2 separate regions of the Homo sapiens genome follow, and region 1 is linked to region 2. The links come from fine-mapping of genetic effects on gene expression. Tissue or cell type: whole blood. Region 2 holds a variant in brackets; the other region holds the start of a gene. All regions are shown on one strand. Distances are between the middles of the regions.

Evidence for each region. PIP is the estimated chance that this variant, and not a neighbour inherited with it, causes the effect.
Region 1: S100A8 starts here. The variant in region 2 is fine-mapped to the expression of S100A8 in whole blood (TOPMed, PIP above 0.99). The same link has a PIP of 0.9 or more in blood mononuclear cells and monocytes.

The regions. Positions count from the first base shown.
Region 1 is chr1:153,389,733-153,392,415 of GRCh38, reverse strand. It overlaps S100A8 (S100 calcium binding protein A8), which reads left to right and starts at 1,343. Exons shown (of 3, transcript NM_002964.5): 1 at 1,343-1,375; 2 at 1,859-2,021; 3 at 2,173-2,384. The coding sequence starts at 1,881. The coding sequence ends at 2,313. RefSeq lists a silencer at 2,136-2,336.
Region 2 is chr1:153,366,149-153,368,831 of GRCh38, reverse strand. No RefSeq gene overlaps it. Among named protein-coding and RNA genes, the nearest start is that of S100A12, 8.1 kb to the left of the region's middle. The variant T/C (reference allele first, on the strand shown) is at 1,526.

The DNA.
Region 1 (2,683 bases), 24 kb before region 2:
TTCCATAACAGCTGCACTATTTTACATTCCCACTAACAGTGCATTAGGCTTCCAATTCTCTATGCCCTCACCAACACTTGTTTTCTGGGTTTTAAAAGAAGTAGTAGTCATCCTTGTAGGTGTCAGGTGGTATCTCATTGTCGTTTTGCTTCATGTTTTCCTAAAGATTAGTAATTTTCATATGCTTATTGACCATTTGTATATCTTCTTCGGAGAAGTGTCTATTTGAGTCTTTTCCCCAATTTTTGATTGGTTTGTTTGTTTTTTGTTGTTGAGTTGTAGGGATTCTTTTATATTCTGGATATTAATCCCTTATCAGATATTTGTTTTACAAATATTTTCTTTGTAACAACAGAAACACACCACAGTCTTCAAGGTTGGAAGCCAGTTAATCTGAGTAGCATTTTGTTAGTGGTGGGGAGAGGATTTGTTCCTCCTGAAATCCTGGGGAATTGGCCACCTCCTCTTCTCCTCTTAGGCATGAAGCGCGTCTGGCTTCTCCAAAGAACTCTTCCCCTCCACTACCTCAGAGTTAGCTTCCTCTCTTCAGCCAGTGATCCTGGGGTCCCAGACACAATAATTAACCAAGAGAGGGTGAAAGGCTCCCTGCTGTGTTTATGCAATGGCTCAGGCCCTTGTGAAGTGCCGAGGGACCCCAAGCAGCCTCCATCTCCCAGGGCATGGTCCATCCCCAGCTTCACAGAACAGGAAAGCTGTGGAGGAGTGTGGGCAGCAGGGTAGGAATGGATATAGCCCTTGGCAACAACACATTTCCCCACAAAGCACCCACCCAAAAGAACAACAACGATAGTTTTAGTTTTTAGTAATGAGAACAATAGTTCTCATGACTAAAAGCCATCAGCCAGGACACGTGTTCTCAACCCTTTTGCGGTCTTTGGACCCTTTGAAACTCTGACAGAAGCCATGGAGGAATGTTCTCACTGAGTGCATGCACTCAAAATGATGCATTCAACTTCAATTCAGTTTCAGGGATGTATGGCCTGACCACCAATGCAGGGGATTAGCAATCGCAATAGTGGAGAGGGCATGGGAGTGGGAATCTGGCTGGATCAAGCAAGTGGATGCCAGCAGCCCAGAAAAAGAGCCCCCCTACCTGCTTTTTCCTTCTGGGCACTATTGCCCAGCAAATGCCTTCCTCTTTCCGCTTCTCCTACCTCCCCACCCAAAATTTTCATTCTGCACAGTGATTGCCACATTCACCTGGTTGAGAAACCAGAGACTGTAGCAACTCTGGCAGGGAGAAGCTGTCTCTGATGGCCTGAAGCTGTGGGCAGCTGGCCAAGCCTAACCGCTATAAAAAGGAGCTGCCTCTCAGCCCTGCATGTCTCTTGTCAGCTGTCTTTCAGAAGACCTGGTAAGTGGGACTGTCTGGGTTGGCCCCGCACTTTGGGCTTCTCTTGGGGAGGGTCAGGGAAGTGGAGCAGCCTTCCTGAGAGAGGAGAGAGAAAGCTCAGGGAGGTCTGGAGCAAAGATACTCCTGGAGGTGGGGAGTGAGGCAGGGATAAGGAAGGAGAGTATCCTCCAGCACCTTCCAGTGGGTAAGGGCACATTGTCTCCTAGGCTGGACTTTTCTTGAGCAGAGGGTGGGGTGGTAAGGAAAGTCTACGGGCCCCGTGTGTGTGCACATGTCTCTGTGTGAATGGACCCTTCCCCTTCCCACACGTGTATCCCTATCATCCCACCCTTCCCACCAGAGCCATAGCCATCTGCTGGTTTGGTTATTTGGAGAGTGCAGGCCAGGACAAGGCCATCGCTTGGGGCATGAATCCTCTGCGTACTGCCCTGGCCAGATGCAAATTCCCTGCCATGGGATTCCCCAGAAGGTTCTGTTTTTCAGGTGGGGCAAGTCCGTGGGCATCATGTTGACCGAGCTGGAGAAAGCCTTGAACTCTATCATCGACGTCTACCACAAGTACTCCCTGATAAAGGGGAATTTCCATGCCGTCTACAGGGATGACCTGAAGAAATTGCTAGAGACCGAGTGTCCTCAGTATATCAGGGTGAGGAGGGGCTGGGTGTGGCGGGGGCTCTCTGCCTGGTCCTGGGGCTGCCCTGGGCCAGCGGTCCTCCCTGCCACCCTTCATAGATGGCTATGCCTCGGCTCTCTCTGAGATCTTTAAACTCTGGCTTCTTCCTCCTCAATCTTGACAGAAAAAGGGTGCAGACGTCTGGTTCAAAGAGTTGGATATCAACACTGATGGTGCAGTTAACTTCCAGGAGTTCCTCATTCTGGTGATAAAGATGGGCGTGGCAGCCCACAAAAAAAGCCATGAAGAAAGCCACAAAGAGTAGCTGAGTTACTGGGCCCAGAGGCTGGGCCCCTGGACATGTACCTGCAGAATAATAAAGTCATCAATACCTCATGCCTCTCTCTTATGCTTTTGTGGAATGAGGTTCCTCGGTGTGGAGGGAGGGTTGGAAAACCCAAAGGAAGAAAAAGAAATCTATGTTATCCCACCCTACCTCTCACAAGCCTTTCCTGCTTTACCCCTCACCTGGCCTCTGCCCCACATTCCCTTCCAGCCCCTCCATCTTGAGCCATTGGATTTGAGGCTTAAGGATTCCAAAAAGTCCATGACACTATAGCTGATGATTTTACTAGTGGTTCTGAAATGGGTCGGGGATTTGGGAACAGGGTGGTAGTATAAGAACAACTGATACT
Region 2 (2,683 bases):
AACAGTAAGATAATAATTTAGACAGGAGGTAACGATTGTAGCTGACCCACCCTCTGCCACAGCACAATAGGTATAGATTATTTTAAACCAAAGCAGACTGAGGTTATATTTAGGGGTGGCTTGGATAGTTAAAGTTGACCAGTGTAAGATAAGGAACCAAGGGAAGTTATGCAATATCTTCCTCTAAAGGCCTTTGAACTAGACCAAGCTGTTCTGCAAACTAGGCCACTCCCTTGATGCACTTACCTTGATTTGGGACCACTTCTGATATATATAGTAGTATTAGAATCTGTTAAAAAAAAAAACAACAAAAAAACCAACAACTAACCGATGAGAGCAAAAGTCCAGCACATTTGCTATTGTGAAAACATTCACCAGCTGTAATTTTGTTTCCAAATAGCCCACTGAACCACAAATTGAACTTAAATCATGGCTAGAAAAATTTTAAGGGCTGCTAACCTTGGTCAAAATCCATCAGTCAGCGGCACCTAAGGACAATGACAAGGGCCCTTGACTTGGAATCAAATGAGCTTGGTTAGACTCCCAGCTCAACTGCTTGGCTCTGTGAGTTTGGGCGAATGGCTTCCCTTCTCTGAGCCTCAGTTTTTTCATGTATATAGTGTGCTGTTTGCACAAGTGATCTCCAGTCCCTTCATGAATACACAGAGACTAGACCCTGTGACTGTGGCTGGTGTCGTGGAACAAGCAAATGAACACAAGCACTGTTAGATCCACAGAGCCCAGGGATTGGCCCTGTTGCTTCTGGAGGCCCTGTCTCACTGTCACCATCTGTCCACCCCCAGAGGCCCTATTCTCCAGCCACTCTAGAACAGTCTCTAGTTTCTCCACGGCTTTGAAACTTCTTGGGTTTTGCTCCTGCTGTCCTCTTGTTCTCTTTGTCTGAAGTGCCTTTTCATCCCTTCATTCACAAACATTTTTTTGTGTCTGCTCTGTTGCAGACACTAGGCTACCTGGGCCCTTCTCTGGCTCTAGAACACCTGCTTATACACCATGGCCTGACTCAACCGTCACATCCTCCAGGGAGCTCACCTGTTCATATCTTCCTCATGTATTTCCATCAAGAGTAGACTTTAGGCCCCTTCCAATTTGGGGCTGACCTCCCTCTTCTGCTCACTGGCTGCTGCTGGAATGATGAGCCTGACAAAGCTGTCTGGGCAAAGGCATTACTGAGTGATAAAGGACACCAATAACACTCTTTTGGGTGCTATATGTGCAATACTTTGCCCTCAGGAGGATATTTCAGGCAGGCTTCCAGTACACCACAAGCCAAGCCATGCCAGCCTGTGCATCAGGCTCTTGGAGCTCAGGAGAAGGATCTGGGCTCAACAAAATGACTATCAGAAGCCCCTGATGTGAGAATGGCTAGGTCTCATCATTTTGACTTGGCCAACACAAGAAGCCTTTCAAGTTTTAAGATAAAGCAAACTAAAAATCTGGAGGGCAAGAGCCCTTACTTCCTATGTTTCTCTGATTTCTTTTATTGCCTAACACAGCACTGGGCACA[T/C]GGAAGTGCAATTCTTGCCCTCTGAAAACTCAGCTTGGGCATTAGTCCAAGCAAGCTTTCCTTCTCTCTCCTTCCCTCTACCCCTGCCCCCCGGCTCCCCTCTACCCCCTCCCCCACACCACAGCCAATAAGACGGCAAAAAGTGCCTTCTGTACTCTCTGGGCATCTTGTGCTTATCATCTGCCTTTGCTTGTCTTTTGCCCACAACATTGTATTATAGAGAAAATATCTGGTAATTGTGCCCCCACTGGACTGAGGGCTCTGTGAAGGCAGGGAATCTAGCACACTATTTGACATAAGACCAGGCTCATCAGCCTCCTAACTGGTCCTCATGCTTCTACTCTGGGGTTCTCCAGGCTACCCTCCACACAGCTGCCGAATATTCTCCTCCAGATACATCATATCACATCACCTGCCTGATTAAAACCCTCCAAAGGCTCTCCAATGTGTTTGGGGTGAAATCTTCGTTGAGATGGCTTCTTGTCATCCAGGCCTCATTTCCAGTGTTGCTTCCTTGCCTGGCTGCCGGCCCACAAAGCAGTCCTGTTAGCATGTCCCCTTTATTTTCTTTGTGCAACTCATCACCATCTAAAATGATCTGGGCTATCTATTTCTTGACTTGCCTCTTGTCTGACTCTCCCCTAGACGCAGTTTTGTTGACCCAGCACCTATAACAGTGCTCTGCATTTAGTTCTCACTCAATGAGTATTTGCAGACTGAATAGCTGATGAATGTTGGCTTCTTTGCATGGAGCTGTTTCCTACCAGAGGGAATGAACACCTGGAGTAGAATGCGAGGGCGATGCTTGAGGCAGTGCTGGGAGAGTGGGAGGGCCTGGCAGCAAATGAGCCACACCACAGCGGGTTTGGAGGCCTTGCCCCCGGGGGTGGGCTCCTCTCCCTGGACCCTGGTGATATTTGAAGGCAGCTGTCATGGCTCCCTTGCTTACCTTTTCCAGACTTGATTCCCCAAGACCTTCAACAATTTTCCCTTGTGATTGTCTCCTTTCATTATGAGGAGTAGACTCGAAACTGGGACATCTTGTGTTTTGAGGGAGCCATTTCTGGTTAGATATGACCCGTAGTTACTTCACAAAGGTTAGATATGACCCCTAGTTGCTTCCCTGAAAGCACTCAGCCACATAGAACTGCATTTTAC